3 separate regions of the Homo sapiens genome follow, and regions 1 and 3 are each linked to region 2. Evidence: fine-mapped expression QTL. A gene starts in region 2. Each other region holds a variant in brackets. All regions are shown on one strand. Distances are between the middles of the regions.

Region 1 (5,228 bases), 52 kb before region 2:
ATGTACTGTTTAACTTCTCCCCACCCCATCATTAAACCAGGTTCCAATCTTTTCTGACTGTCCCATCACCATTTTCTTTTCCTTTATTTATTTATGCAGATGCCTAGGAATATCAGATGACAGGAGCAATGGGAGGTGAGGGAGATTTCACACCATTGATGATTCAGGTTAATGCTTCACAAATTATATCAAGCAGACAACCTTCGCAAGAAGTTTGAGGACCCAAGATACAGATCTAATTGAAAGCTGGTTTGACCAAAGGTCAATCTCCAGTCTTGTTCAGGATTCCTAGTAACCAAAGGCTATTCCTGCAGGTAAAGATTAAGAATTAACTTTTATGGAAGCTTATCTACCAATTTTCAGAGAAAACTCAATGTAAACCACTATAGTTGATATGTATTAAATCACTCCTGGATTTTACAAAGACGTCTAAATATTATTAAAATAAAGCACATATTTCTAGATGTTCATTTGTTTGTTAAAGAATGCTGACTAAAAGGAATTATTTCTTTACATACCAATTTTCCAGTCCCAATGAATGCTGGCAATATCCTTATATTCCACAATCAATCTAAGATTAAAACAAGAGGTCACAGAGAGGTCCACATACTAATTTTCACTATTTTATAAGCATTTTAGTCACTATACTTCAGCTAAAGTGAGGAATTACATGGACATTTGAATTTGTCTTAGAATATAAAAATAACGATCTTTAATAAAAATGACAAAGAATAAAACCAAAGGAGTTCATAAAGATATGTTTGACTCCCTTACAGGTGCTCTGAAATAATAGTCAAGTATAGGAGGAAAATATGATATTATGCTTTGTTTTTGAATAAGCTTAGGAAGTTAATGTGTTAATATTTTCTGGAAATAACTAAAAAAACTCCTTACTGGCAAATGCCTCTACCACATGGTAATCAGGAATCCTAAGCAACACACATGTTTAAGAAAATAGGAAGTAATTCTTGATGTTTTAACAATCCTCTAGTAGACACTCAGCAAGTTATTAGGTAATGGCAAAACCACAATTACTCTTGCATCCACCTAATACTAATTCCAAATGTGAATTTGGGCCAAATAAACAATGAATATTAGTAGTTATCATCTATAATATATTTGCTTATTTTGTCTTTAGAAAAAAATTGTAGAATCTTACAGCTGTATACCACTGATAATTGTTCCAAACAGGCCCACCATTCCTAAAAACTCCTGTCTGCTCAGCTTCTTCACGATGTATTCCTCACAAACATTTGAAATGGCATAGAGGGAAGCCCCAAGAAGGACCAAGATGTCACCAATCAATACATCACTCCCTGCAGGAAGACAAGCCACAGAAAGCAAAACACTGTCAACAGATGAACCTCCACAGCGTGCCTCCAGGCGGTCATCTGACTCGTGTTCATTTAAATGACACTAAAGAAGAAGAAACTGGTTACTAGAAGTTTATGTGTGAGAGTGTGTGTGTGTGTATGTGTGTGTGTGTATGTGTGTGTTTGAGACAGTCTTGCTCTGTTGCTCAGGCTGGAGTGCAGTGGCGCAATCTCAGCTCACTGCAACCTACACCTCCGGGTTCAAGTGATTCTCCTGCCTCAGCCTCCCAACTGGCTGGGATTACAGGCACCCTCCATCATGCCTGGCTAATTTTTGCATTTGTACTGGTCTTGAACTCCTGACCTCAAGTGATCCGCTCACCTTGGCCTCCCAAAGTACTGGGATTACAGGTGCGAGCGACTGTGCCTGGCCTAATTTTTGTATTTTTGGTAGAGACCGAGGTTTCACCATGTTGGCCAGGCTGGTCTCGAACTCCTGACCTCAGGTGATCCACCCACCTTGGCCTTCCAAAATGTTGGGATTACAGGTGTGAGCCACCGCACCCAACCTGGTTACTAGAAGTTTAAAATCTCTTACTCTTCTCACTTTCTGGTGCAATTCTGCTGTAATTTTTCATAATTTAACTCCTCAGAAGTCTAACAGGCTAGAAACTGATGATATATATCATAATGTAAGGCCTCAGAAAATGATTCCATGACATGACAAATTAATGGAGTTCATTGAAGGGGTAGGTCAATTTGAAAAATGGGAACCTGCTTTCAAAGTAATTTTCCCTCTCAATCCAAAGAGACACTTAACTCACTTGTAGACTGGGTGAATTCACAGACCTTAATTAGATTTTATACTATCAACTATAATTTTCTCTCTCAATCCAAAGAGACACTTAACTCACTTGTAGACTGGGTGAATTCATGGACCTTAATTAGATTTTATAGTATCAACTGTAATTTTCTCTCTCAATCCAAGGAGACGTTTAACTCACTTGAAGATTGGATGAATTCATAGACCTCAATTAGATTTTATACTATCAACTGAATTCAACACAAAGTGTGGCAAAGTGTTCTCACCTACACAGTGACTTAAAAAGAAATACTCCAGTAAACAAGTTTCTTTGTTGATATAAAAGTGAAAACATAAACAAATTTGCTGTGATTGAAGCACAAACATGTGACACCGTCTCACCTGAATTGTCTTCCCTCCCTGCTAGTATGTCTGCACCAACCATGGTTCCTACACCCAACAGACAGACAGCCACGGCGATGAAGTGGATCACTCTGTATCTTGCATGAAGAATAAACCATGACAGAGCCATCAACACAGGAATCCCAAAGCAATCCAAAAGCTGCATGGAAAGAGAATCAACAGTTTAAAACATATCTCTCATTAGCTAAAAGATGGGTAATTAAGAAATAATAGGAGTCAGTATTTATAATAGGAGTCAGTATTTATTGAGCATTTATTATTGCCAGCCCTGTACTAAGAGCTTTACCTGGATTCACTCATTTAATCCTCACAATTCCATGAGACTGAAATTACAATCCAATTTTATACATGAGAAAATGAAGATACAGAGAGGTGAAATGAGTTGCCAAAAACACATAGTTAAAAATGGGATGACAGCTGGGCACGGTGGCTCACGCCTGTAATCTTAGCACTTTGGGAGGCTGTGGCGGGCAGA[C/T]TGCTTGAGTCCAGGAGTTCGATATCAGCCTGGGCAACATGGTGAAACCCTGTCTGTACAAAAAAAAAAAAAAACAACAACAAAAAAAAACCTTGGGTGTGGTGGTGCACTCCTGTAGTCCCAGCTACTTGGGAGGCTAAGGTGAGAGGATCACTTGAGCCCGGAGTTCAAGGATGCAGTGAGCTGTGATGGTGCCACTGCACTCTAGGCTGTACAACCCAGAGAGACCCTGTCTCAAAATAAATGAATAGATAATAAAATACAATGGAAGAGTCAGTTGCTGTATACAAGAATTCTGCTGAGGGCCTGTGCACTTTACCTCTATGCTCCCACCTGTGTATATCTTTTCTTTTATTTTATTATTATTATTTTTTTTTTGAGATGGAGTCTCGCTCTGTTGCCCAAGCTGGAGCGCAGTGGTGCAATCTCGGCTCACTGCAACCTCTGCCTCTCGGGTTTAAGCAATTCTTCCTGCCTCAGCCTCCCAAGGAGCTGGGATTACAGCCATCTGCCACCATGCCCAGCTAATTTTTGTATCTTTTAGTAGAGATGGGGTTTTGTCATGTTGGCAAGGCTGGTCTCGAACTCCTGATGTCAGGTGATCTGTCTGCCTCGGCCTCCCAAAGTGCTGGGATTACAGGCGTGAGCCACCACGCCTGGCCCTGTGTATATCTTTAAGTTCAGTAGACAAACATTCCTTCCTACCTGCAACCATTTACTCAGTCAACAAATATTTGTTAAACACCTTGCATGTGTGAGACACTGTGAAAGGAGCTAGGAATAGCGGTGAACAGGACAGAGCAAGCTGTGTCCTTAGGAGCACACAAAGCTAGAAAGGACATGGAATAAATAATCACACCACCAGATATTTCACTGGAATCGGGCTAAGCGCTACAAAGAAGCATGGGTTACTGTGAGAGAACAGACACCATCTCCCTGACAAAGCGTCCAACCCCACCATGTGAGACACACTCGTGCTCATGGCAAATACTCTTGCTCATCCTCCTCACATGCTCCCCCTCACCTGTTGATACTGGGTCCAGAAAACACTAGCTATACACCTGATATTGCTCATCTGGAAGGCAGAGGGATTAAGTGTGCCAAAATTACAGCAGGTCCAAAATTGTTTGCAAGATAAAAGATAAAAAAGAGAGTGCACTCACTCAATTCTTAAATTCACAAATTTAATGTGCATTCAAGGATAAAATATATTCAAGAGATTCTTGATGCATTCCAATGTATTTCTTTCAAGGAAGAAATATATTCCTTATACCAGTAATATTCCCGAAACTGCTGTTTTATTGCTCACCCTTTTGTTGTTTCAAACCTTGTCCCTGATTCTCTCTGTATCTGTTTGGTCTTGAACAAGACAGGCCCCTAAATCTCCAACAGCCCATTCGATCCTGTCCACAGTTGTTTACTGATTGCCTTTCACTGCAGTAGCATCAGTGGAGTCCAACGCATCATGTGTAGGAATGGGCATCTTGCCTTGTTATTTATTCCAGCTGCAGAACTCTAATCTCCTAAGTGCTTTATTGAGCCTGCCTGAATAACAAAACATTAAACGATGCAAATGATAATACCCTGTCCCTGAAGACACCAGCAGAATCCAGCCATAACGGCTTAACAAAATCTCAACTACATTCCTTAAACAAAAAAAGTAGAAAAAGACATTCTAAGAACTACCACAGAAGAGTCCCTTGTGTCTTAAAATCAAACTTAAATTTGCTCTATCTTTAACAACTTTTGTTGGGCAATGAGGGAGATGCCTATGTCATGATCAGAGCTCCAGAAACCTCAGGCCCCGGCCCCACGCTGACCAGCTAGCTGTGTGGCCCCAGCCAGTCACTCTCCAAGTCAAAATATAAAATAAAAAGATCAGACGAAATGATCACACAGTTTCCCTCCGACTCTAACATTCCATGACTTCTCATCTGATATCTATCACCTTTAGTCATGTGAACCTTCTTTTCAAAATGTATTCTTGGTGGCCGGGAGTGGTGGCTCATGCCTGTAATCCCAGCACTATGAGAGGCCAAGGCCGGAGGATCACTTGAGGTCAGGAGTTCGAGACCAGCCTGGCCAACATGGCAAAACCTCGTATCTACTCAAAATACAAAAAAAAAAAAAAAAAAAAAAATCAGCTGGGCGCATGCCTGTAATCCCAGCTACTCAGGAGGCCAAGGCTGCAGTGAACCAAGATTATCCCACTTCA
Region 2 (5,228 bases):
CCATATAGAGCACTGAAAGGAGCCAGGCTCTGTCTGCCCTTTCCTGCATAGTAACCTTGTAACAGCACTACAAGGTAGGTACTGTTATTATCTCCATTTTACAAATAAGAAAACTGGAGCACAGGCTGGGCGCGGTGGCTCACGCCTGTAATCCCACTACTTTGGGAGGCGGAGGTGGGTGCATCACTTGAGGTCAGGAGTTCAAGACCAGCCTGGTCAACATGGGGAAACCCCATCTCTACTAAAAGCATGAAAAAATTAGCCTGGCGTGGTGGTATACATCTGTAATCCCAGCTACTTCGGAGGCTGAGGCAGGATAATCGCTTGAACCCGAAAGGTTGAGGTTGCAGTTAGCTGAGATAGAGCCTCTGCACTCAGGCCTGGGTGACAGAATGAGACTCTGTCAGGAAGGAAGGTGACAGAATGAGACTCCGTCAGGAGGGAGGGAGGGAGGGAGAGAAAAGAGGGAGGGAGACTGGAGCACAGAGAAGTTAAGTGACTTGTCCAAGAAGGGAGGGAGGGAGGGAGAGAGGGAGACCGGAGCACAGAGAAGTGACTTGTCCAGGAAGGAAGGAAGGAAGGCAGGAAGGAAGGAAGGGAGGGAGGGAAGGAAGGAAGGGAGGGAGGGAGGGAGGGAAAAGAGGGAAGGAGACTGGAGCACAGAGAAGTTAAGTGACTTGTCCAAGAAGGAAGGGAGGGAGGGAGACTGAAGCACAGAGAAGTGACTTGTCCAGGAAGGAAGGAAGGCAGGAAGGAAGGGAGGGGCGGAGGGAGGGAACTGGAGCACAGAGAACTGATTTGTCCAAGGTCACCCAGCAGAAGGAAGGGAGGAAGGAAGGGAGGAAGGAAGGGAGGGAGGGAGACTGGAGCACAGAGAAGTTAAGTGACTTGTCCAAGACGGACGGACACGGACGGAAGGAAGGAACAAAGAAGGAGGGAGGGAGGGAGGGAGGGAACTGGAGTACAGATAACTGACTTGTGGAAGGAAGGACGGAAGGAAGGAGAGAGGGAACGAAGGAAGGAGAGAGGGAAGGAAGGAAGGAAGGAGAGAGAGGGAAGGAAGGAAGGAGAGAGGGAGAGAGGGAGGGAAGGGAGGGAACTGGAGCACAGAGAACTGACTTGTCCAAGGTCACCCAGCCAGGATTTGAGTCCAGAATGTGAGTGCCCTTAGCCATTACACTGAATTGCCTCCCAGCTGAGAACTTTTAACAAATGTATCAGGACATACACAACTGGATGCTACAAGGTGGTTTTCGGCCAACTTTCCCCTTTAAACACATGCATCAATTTCAAACTATTTATATGATAAAAAATGCTTACACCTTTATCGATCTCGTTTTTAAAATGGTATGGCTTTTCAGGACTATCTTTCACAATCGTTAAAGGGAAATTCGCTTTGTTAATATGAAAAAAAAATCAAATATCTGTTTCATGAGTTGTCAGTGGCCAACGCTGTTTAGACTACGGCTTGAACGCATCACCCCTTAAAGATCATCTTGTGGCCTTGGGCAAATTGCTTAGCCTTCTTTGTTTCTCCAGCGGCAAAGTGGATATAACAATAGTACCATCTCCTAAAGTGGTGAGGATTAGCTGATATTATCCATATAAATTGTTATGCACAGTACCTGACACAGAGCGAGTGCCCAATAAATGTCTTTCACTATTTAGGTCCTGGGTTCTCTCATTTCCAGAGTGCAAGTCCTCCAGCAACCACAGAAACGCTTTCTAGAGTCGCTGCCCACTCCTTAAAAACATTTGTCCCTACTTCGCACAGAGCATAGTGATACCACAAACAGGCTTCCCTGGACCCCAGCCCTGGGGGTGGCTATATCACCTCGCTCAGGCCCAGGAAGAGAGAGCCGGCTCTGGTCTCCCACCCGGCAGCAGCACAAAACTTAACCAGGATTTCTCACTTCGGTCAACTCTTGAATCACCGCGCCCAGTCTGGCTGGCTCGGCAGCAGATGGAATGAGGGCGCCGGCGCCAGGAAGTGGCGCTCACCCACCTGCCCAGCCCGAGGTGGGCACTCCTCCTTCACAGCATCCCCGGGGACCTCGTCCCTCCACCGCGGAACGCCCCAGAGGACCGACCTAATAGTGCCACAGGGTGGGTTTCCCCCCAAATCCTCCAAAATACATCGCCACGATTTCGAAACGGGAGCCGAGGGAGACGCACCAAGTGCTTCCCGACGCCAGGTGAAGCGCACCATACCTGGTGTGCGTGTTGAGCCCCGAACCGAAGTCCGTGCGGCCGCCACCTCTGCCTCCCTGCTGGGGGCCTCAGAGAGTGTGCTCCTTGTCCACGTGCGCGCAGGGCCCGCAGCCGCCCCCACGCCCCAGCGGAGCTGCAGCACGCCCCTTCCACTCACCAGGTGAAGAGTTTGCCTTTTATCCTGCGCAGCAGGCTGGAGAACTCGGCCGCCGCTCCCTCCGCGAGGGGCTCTGGGGCGCCGGGGCCCGCTGGCGAGTCTGCCTCCATCGGCGCCCTTGCGCGTCTCCGGCGCCCAAAACCCCCGAAGTGCCGGGTCCCGGAAGACGGGAGGCGGTGCCTGTGCGGCCGGCTGGGGCTCCGCTCTGGCCCTGCGCTCCCTCCCTCGCTCGCTTGCTCGCGTCCCTCTCGCTCCTCCGCTCGGCTCCTTCAGCGACCAATCATTAACTGTCAAGCCCTAAGGGCCAGACAATACATTTGCAGATTACAACCTGGCACCTCCAGGGTGGCAGGAGGAGAAAGGGCAATTTTTTTTTCGTCTTGGCAGCCGAGCCTTATTGTTGAGCGGCACCCAGTGTGCCTTCAGGTTTTTAGGGTTCCTTGTTTGAAATCACAAGATACAGTGACACGAGGTTATTGTAGGTGATTCCTAAGCTAAGAAGCGGTGAGTGAGCAGTGAGTTAGAAGCAGTGAGTGAGCCGGGACTCTCCTAACTGGAAGGACTGGCTGACCCCTCCTCTTCCCTCCCACTCTCCCTCCCTCTGGCTGATTTGTACAAAATCGCTTCATTAAAATAACTGAAGGCTGGCAGGGCGCGTTGGCTCACACCTGTAATCCCAACGCTTTGGGAGGCCGAGACGGGTGGATCACCTGAGGTCAGGAGTTCGAGACCAGACTGGGAAATATGGTGAAACCCCGTCTCTACTAAAAATACAAAAATTAGCCGGGCGTGGTGACGGGTGCCTGTAGTCCCAGCTACTCGAGAGGCTGAGGCAGGAGAATCGCTTGAACCCAGGAGGCGGCGGTTGTGAGCCAAGATCGCGCCTTTGCACTCCAGCCTGGGCAACAGAGGGAGACGTCGTCTTAAAAAAAAAAAAAAAAAAAAAAAAAACCTGAAGGCGCTTCAGGTCTGTGTCGCTTTTCCCTGCAAAACATGGGTAAGATCCTAAAAAGATCTTGGAAACGTGCCTTTGTGGCGTGGATGGAGGCGTGGCTCATTCCTCGCGGTGTGTTGGTTTTGTCTTTCAGTATTCAGTTGTCTCCGCCGTGCCAGGGAGAGAGACGGTGCCAACCCCCGGCGCTCGGCTTGGATGCCCTGCCCTGGCCACGCCTTCCGAGGCTTCCACGGGCTAAAGAGGGATTAAGAGACACTAAGCTGGGGTCGAAAAGTTCCTGTCACTGACCCCCTGCTTCCGGAAAGGAGGAGATCCAGAAAACAAAAGAAAAGGTGTTGGGACCTTTTATTTTTTCCTGGCCACCTGCTTTGGGGGTTGGGGTGGGTCAAAATAAACGTAGGTTCAAATAGACAGGCTGTGCAGACGAGCTGGCAATTCTGTAAGAGGAGTCTAAGAAAAAAAACAGCTTTCGAAAATGAAATATTACTTCAGGAACCCCAAGTTTAGCAGCTGCAGGAACCTCAAAAAAACCTTTGAAACTAAGAACGTGGTCATCCGTAGAGACTAATTAAGTATTATAATACAAGCATATTATGAAACAAGAGGACATTAGAAGCACATTTAAGATGTCACTTTTGTAAAGTAAACAACTCATTTAACCCTGCATATTGACAACGTTGAATTCTACCTGAGCCCTGTGCTCCTGGAAAGTAATGACAATTAAGAAACCTTCCTAGGCCGGGCGCGGTGGCTGACGCCTGTAATCCCAGTGCTTTGGGAGACCGAAGCGGGCGGATTACTCCTGAGGTCAGGAGTTCGAGACCAGCCTGACCAACATGGCGAAATCCCGTCTCTACTAAAACTACAAAAATTAGCCCGGCGTTTTGGTGTGTGCCTGTAATCCCAGCTACTTGGGAGGCTAAGGCAGGAGAACCACTTGAACCCGGGAGGCAGAGGTTGCAGTGAGCCAAAATCGTGCCACTGCACTTCAGCCTGGGCAACAGAGTAAGACTGTCTCAAAAAAAAAAGAAAGAAAGAGAGAAAGAGAGAAAGAAAGAAAGAGAAAAGAAAAGAAGCCTCCCACCTTTTTTTTTTTAATCAAAGATTTTGGTTGAATTTCTCTTCCTCCCTCATACCTCTGAACTTTCACCCACCCTGACCCTGAGCCGCAGGTAACCCCTCCTTAATAGCCCCTCCTGAGAAGTTGGCCTCAGGGTGAAACATTCTCTAATCTATTATCCAGTGGAGAGCCACCTTTTCATTCCACTTCCCACCAGTAGGGAATAGGCCCCCTCCTACTGCAGGAACCCTTCCCCACAGTCCCCACCCATCCCCATTTGCAATAATCCCTACAAATAAAGTCTCTCCTTAACCAAATTTGATTTTTTATTTGCAATATATACAGTAGTCACCTCCTTACCTGAGGTTTTGATTTCCACGGTTTTAGTTACCACAGCCAATTACCCTCTGAAAATAGGTGACTAGAGTATAGTAAGATATTTTGAGAGAGAGACCACATTCACATAACTTTTATTACAGTATATTGTTATAATTGTTCTATTTTATTATGAGTTGTTAATTTCTTACTGTGCCAATTTTATAAATTAAATTTTATTATAGGTATGTGTAGGAAAAAAGTATATACTGTATAGGGCTAAATACTCTCTGCAGTTTCAGACACCCACCGGGGGTCTTGAAACATAAGGGAGGACTACTATGTTTGATTATGTGAGTATGAAGAAAAATAGAAGATACACGTCAACACCAGTAACTTTAAAAGAGGGTGGGGGGCCAGGCACAGTAGCTCACACCTGTAATCCCAACACTTCAGGAGGCTGAGGCAGGAGGATTGTTTGAGCTCAGGAGTTTCAGACCAGCCTGGGGCTACATAGTGAGACAGTCTTT
Region 3 (5,228 bases), 28 kb before region 2:
TACAAAAATTAGCTGTGCCAGTGGCGGGAGCCTGTAATCCCAGCTACTCAGGAGGCTGAGGCAGGAGAATCGCTTGAAACCGGAAGGCGGAGGTTGCAGTGAACTGAGATCGCACCACTGCACTCCAGCCTACCTTAAAGACCGAAACTCCATCTCAAAAAAAAAAAAAAAAAATAGCAATACTAAAAATTTTTTTTAACTTGCTGGTCTTCTTTGGAGGGTGCTAGGGAATGAACTTACTATTTTGAAGACTAGTGAATAAAAGAAATGAATTAATGTTTATCCTGCCCTTCTTATACAAATTATACCTCAGGGTAATCAAAGAGTTGATGAAAAGGAGTTTGTCCTTGTGGAAATAGTCTGTATAATGAATTAAGATGGGATGACAAATAAAATATCACTTTAGGAGCCCTAATAAAATAATGGATCTAGACAAAACATCAATAGCTCCTAACAACAAAAAAGAAAGAGACAAGAAAAAATTATATGTCTCCTGCTATGATTTGAATATCTGCCCTTTCTAAAACTCATGCTGAAACTTAATCCCGGCCGGGCGCAGTGACTCATGCCTGTAATCCCAGCACTTTGGGAGGCCGAGGTGGGCAGATCACTTGAGGCCAGAAGTTCGAGACCAGCCTGGCCAACATGGTGAAACCCTGTCTCTACTAAAAATACAAAAAATTAGCCAGGAGTGGTGGTGCACGCCTGTAGTCCCAGCCACTCAGGAGGCTGAGGCAGGAGAATTGCTTGAACCTGGCAGGAGGAGGCTGCAGTGAGCCAAGATCACGCCACTGCACTCCAGCCTGGGCGACAGAGTGAGACTGTCTTGGAGCAGGAGGTCAGTAGGAAAAAAAAAAAAGAAAAAAAAAAAAAGCTCACACCTGTAATCTCAGCACTTTGGAAGGCTGAGGTGGGCCAATCACCTGAGGTCAGGAGTTCGAGACCAGCCTGGTCAACATGGTGAAACCCCATCTCTACTAAAAGTACAAAAATTAGCCAGGCATGGTGGCAGGTGCCTGTGATCCCAGCTACTTGGGAGGCTGAAGCAGGAGAATCATTTGAACACAGGAGGCAGAGGCTGCAGTGAACAGAGATCGTGCCACCGCACTACAGTCTGGGTGACAGAGTGAGACTACATCTCAAAAAAAAAAAAAACTTGTTTGACTCCCAGTGCACCCTTCTCGCCCTGTGATGCCTTCCACCATGCTATGACACAGTATGAGGCCCTCACCAGAAGCCAAACAGATGCAGCTGCTCAATCTTTGGACTTCCCAGCCTTTAGAGCTATATGAAATAAACTTCTTTTCTGTATAAATTACCAGTCTTGCATATTTTTATAGCAACAAAAAACAAATTAAGACACCTCTTGATGGTAGTACATAATACCTATGAAATCTCACAAAAAAAAAAAAAAAAAGACTACAGAGTTTTTAACCTGGGGCACATGGACCAGGTCCATGAAAATATTCTAGGGTCTATGAACTTCAGTAGAAAAAAATATATATATCCTCATTTTCAGTAACATTGAACTAAAATTTAACAATCCCTTCAATTATAAACATAGGCAACAAACTATAGTGGTGCTAGCAAGACCTAAGACTTTGCTGCCAAAAGAATTCACAGATATTTTCACTTCGTATGGCTACTATAGCTAAAATTTCAAATAAAATTTATATTCATCACTACTCCAAAATCATGGTAAACCAGGCATGCTGGCTCACACTTGTAATCCTAGCACGTTGGGAAGGCCAAGGCGGGAGGATCACCTAAGGCCACAAGTTGGAGACCAGCCTGGGCAAAATAGCAAGACCTCATCTCTATAAAAGTTAAAAAAAAAAAATTGTAATTAAAAACTCATTGTGATATTTTGTTACTTAGTAAATTTTAAAGAAAAGAAGCCTCTATATTAACATATATCCCAATTTGCTTTTTAATAATTTGACAACTAAATCTTTGCAATTGGTTTCCATTATAATTTTTAATATTTATGCATTTAAAAACATTATCCTAAGAAGAAAATACTGTTGGCTGGGCACAGTGGCTCACGCCTGTAATCTCAGCACTGTGGGAGGCCGAGGCGGGCAGATCACGAGGTCAAGAGATCGAGAACATCCTGGCCAACATGGTGAAACCCCATCTCTACTAAAAACACAAAAATTAGCTGGGCATGGTGGTGGATGCCTGTAGTCCCAGCTACTCAGGAGGCTGAGGCAGGAGAATGGCGTGAACCTGGGAGGCGGAGCTTGCAGTGAGCCGAGATCACGCCACTGCACTCCAACCTGGGAGACAGAGCAAGACTCAGTCT[C/CAA]AAAAAAAAAAAAAAAAGAAAAGAAAAAAAAAGAGAACAGCCTCTACTTTTATTTGAATGTTCCCATAAAATTTTTTTTAAGCCAACAGAAACCCTACATGTACCCATGCCAAGGCTGTTCAGACAAGCCAAAACATCACATGTATTTGCCTTCAGCTCTAATTATATCAACCAAGTGTGGTAACAATCATTTTCTCTTGCTAATCAGAAGTTCAGGTGTCTGATTAGTTAAAAGAGAGAGAGAAAAAAATAAACTCATTATTACTTAACAAATGAGTATTGGGGAAAGGGTGTCAAAATCTTTCAAAACATAAGATTCCTGGCAAAAAATAATAATAAAAGGGGTTCATAATGGAAGAAAAACCTGAAGATTGCTGATCTAATATAAAATGTCTCACACTGTATTCTACTTACTATGTATATGGCTACCCAGGTAGGTCACAAGCTCCTAAAAGACAGAAACAGTGTCATATTCCTCTTTGTTTATCCAGGATATGAATCAATACGGGCTGGCACAATTGCTGCAAAGGTAAAAAATGCCACCGGAGAAAGCTGACCTTTCTGAAACCTCTGTTAGTTCAACTGGAACAAGTAGGAACAAATGGATTACAAGAAGAAATCAATCTACAGTTTAACTTGGAAATGTGTCAACCCAAATGTGATTATCAGGAAGCATTCAACTTAAAAATAAAAGTGTAAAATAAGTTGCAAAACTCATTGGAATGGGACAGGGTGATAGTATTTGCTCCCATCTCAGCCTACCACATAGCTGGGACTACAGGCACATGCCACTACACCCAGCTAATTTTTAAAATTTTGGTAGAGACAAGGCCTCACTCACTATGTTGCCCAGGCTGGTCTCAAACTCCCGGCCTCAGGCGATCCTCATGCCTAGACCTCCCAAAGCACTGGGATTATAGACGTGCACCACCACACCCAACCAACAAGACAATCTTATCTGGTTGCAAGGCAGATACAAAATTATCTTCGTGAAGTGGGGGGACATGTAATTTCTTTGCCCTTGTTCTAGATACACCAAGCAACATTAATCCTATATTTCCCAGGTAGGTTTTTCTTTTGAGATGGTTGTCTTGTGACCATCTGTCAAAGTTAGCAGTGACAATTCTCATTAAAAACTACCACCTTTCTTTTCAAGTGTAAGTGTAAGTTTGAACAGCAAGAGCTACTTTCTCCAGAGACTGGTCACTACCAAATGAACTGATCATGATGTTCCAGACAAAGAGAACTGGAAAATTCTGGCAAAGAACAGGAATCAAGAGGTTCAGGTGTCAGCCTTCTTATCTACTACTCTAGAAATATGTTCATAAGGTTTTGCCAAAACCACAGTCTCACTATTTAATGAAGCAATAAAGCAAGCTTTTCCAAAAATTACCCTATACATTATAACACCAGTTATAGTTTCTTATGGAGCGGGACATTTCTGAAATTGGCAAAATATTTTTTTTTTCTGCTGATCTTCACCAAATGTTATACTGCATTTCTTAGACTAAAGGATGGGGTGGGTGAGCTAATTTTGCAGTATTCTATAACAATACAACAGAAGTTTGGAGCAGAGCAAGTTTAGTATGGGTCTAGATCCAGCAAGTAACCCACTAGGTTATATCCAGTCACTTTAGTTGTAACTCAGGATATTTCCAATCAAGACAGCTTCTACCTCTGAGCATTCCCAATGTTGTTAGTTCCCGGAACTGGTTTATTCTATTCTGAATCTACGAGAACAAGAAAAGGCCTGGAGCCAAAAGATAGTAGTGGGAGGGTTTAGAAGTCAATGACTTGATGAATTGATTGATGGATCAAATTGCCTGATTGACTAAACCTTAAAAGAACCAGATAATTTGGGTGGGATTGTGGAAATTTTTTGTTATTTTCTTTTTATTCTGTACATACTAGTTTTCAAACAATGAGAAATCTATTTACAGCCAAGTGTGGTGGCTCATGCCTGTAATCCCAGCACTTTGAGAGGCCAAGGTGGGCAGACTGCTGAAGCCCAAGAGTGCAAGACAAGCCTGGGCAACATGATCAAATGCCTTCTCTACAGAAAAAAATGCAAAAATTAGCCGGGTATGATGGCATGCACCTATAGTCCCAGCTATTTAGGAGGCTGAGATGAAAGGATCACCTGACCCCAGGGAGTTCAAGGCTGCAGTGAGCCATGATCATGCCACTGCACTCCAGCCTGGGTGACAGAGTGAGACCCTGTCTCAAAAACAAACAAACAAAATCTACATTCTGTCAGGAAAGTACAGGGACTAGAAGAAAATATAACATTGGAAGGCTTCCCCTCAACTCCTCATGTTTAATCCTTGTGGCTAATTTGGATTTGCAGCTCACATTCCATCTTTTGTTTCTCTCCCAACCTCTTCTGGTCTGTGATCCTCTGTTGACAATTTGAGATTTCCAAACTGCTGACTTAAAGCTCCCTGGACTTGCCAGTGGGGCATCCATCATCATCAAGTATTATTTATTTACTTATTACATTCATGCTAATGGACGCCATCAGAATACCTTGTCTATGTTTTTTATAGTGTCTCACAGTTTACAAAAACTCTTCTATACCCTATCTTATTTTATTTTTGATCCATTTGCCAATGCTGTGTGGTTGCAGATGAAGAAACTGAAGCTAAGAGAGTTGAAATGGCTGGATGCGGTGTCTCACGACTGTAATCCCAGCACTTTGGGAGGCTGAGGTGGGCAGATCACGAGCTCAAGAGATCAAGACCATCCTGGCCAACATGGTGAAGCCCTGTCTCTACTAAAAATACAAAATTAGCCAGGCGTGGTCGCACATGCCTGTAATCCCAGCTACTTGGGAGGCTGAGGCAGGAGAATAGCTTGAACCTGGGAGGCAGAGGTTGCCGTGAACCAAGATCACACCACTGCATTCCAGCCTGGGCATCAGAGT

Direction of the effects. Positions count from the first base shown, and alleles are read on the strand shown. Sizes are in standard deviations (SD) of each study's normalised expression. Not every link is listed here.
For the expression in fibroblasts of the gene that starts at base 2,498 in region 2, C is the low allele of the variant in region 3 and CAA is the other (moderate effect, 0.54 SD a copy in GENCORD).

Evidence for each region. PIP is the estimated chance that this variant, and not a neighbour inherited with it, causes the effect. A credible set is the group of variants that fine-mapping cannot tell apart.
Region 1: its variant is the best candidate, but not a certain one, in a credible set for the expression of SLC35F2 in aorta (GTEx, PIP 0.80).
Region 3: its variant is the best candidate, but not a certain one, in a credible set for the expression of SLC35F2 in fibroblasts (GENCORD, PIP 0.51).

Annotation. Positions count from the first base shown.
Region 1 is chr11:107,804,200-107,809,427 of GRCh38, forward strand. It overlaps SLC35F2 (solute carrier family 35 member F2), which reads right to left. Exons shown (of 8, transcript NM_017515.5): 4 at 2,518-2,677; 5 at 1,160-1,316; 6 at 519-571. Among named protein-coding and RNA genes, the nearest start is that of SLC35F2, 52 kb to the right of the region's middle. The variant C/T (reference allele first, on the strand shown) is at 3,014.
Region 2 is chr11:107,856,290-107,861,517 of GRCh38, forward strand. SLC35F2 (solute carrier family 35 member F2) reads right to left here and starts at 2,498. Exons shown (of 8, transcript NM_017515.5): 1 at 2,369-2,498. The coding sequence starts at 2,478. It overlaps LOC124902746 (a long non-coding RNA gene), which reads left to right and starts at 2,941. Exons shown (of 2, transcript XR_007062876.1): 1 at 2,941-3,365; 2 at 3,457-4,700. RefSeq lists an enhancer at 2,024-2,093 and a silencer at 2,314-2,623.
Region 3 is chr11:107,828,278-107,833,505 of GRCh38, forward strand. All of the region lies in intron 1 of SLC35F2 (solute carrier family 35 member F2), which reads right to left. Among named protein-coding and RNA genes, the nearest start is that of SLC35F2, 28 kb to the right of the region's middle. RefSeq lists enhancers at 3,940-4,485, 4,486-5,031, 5,032-5,228. The variant C/CAA (reference allele first, on the strand shown) is at 2,306.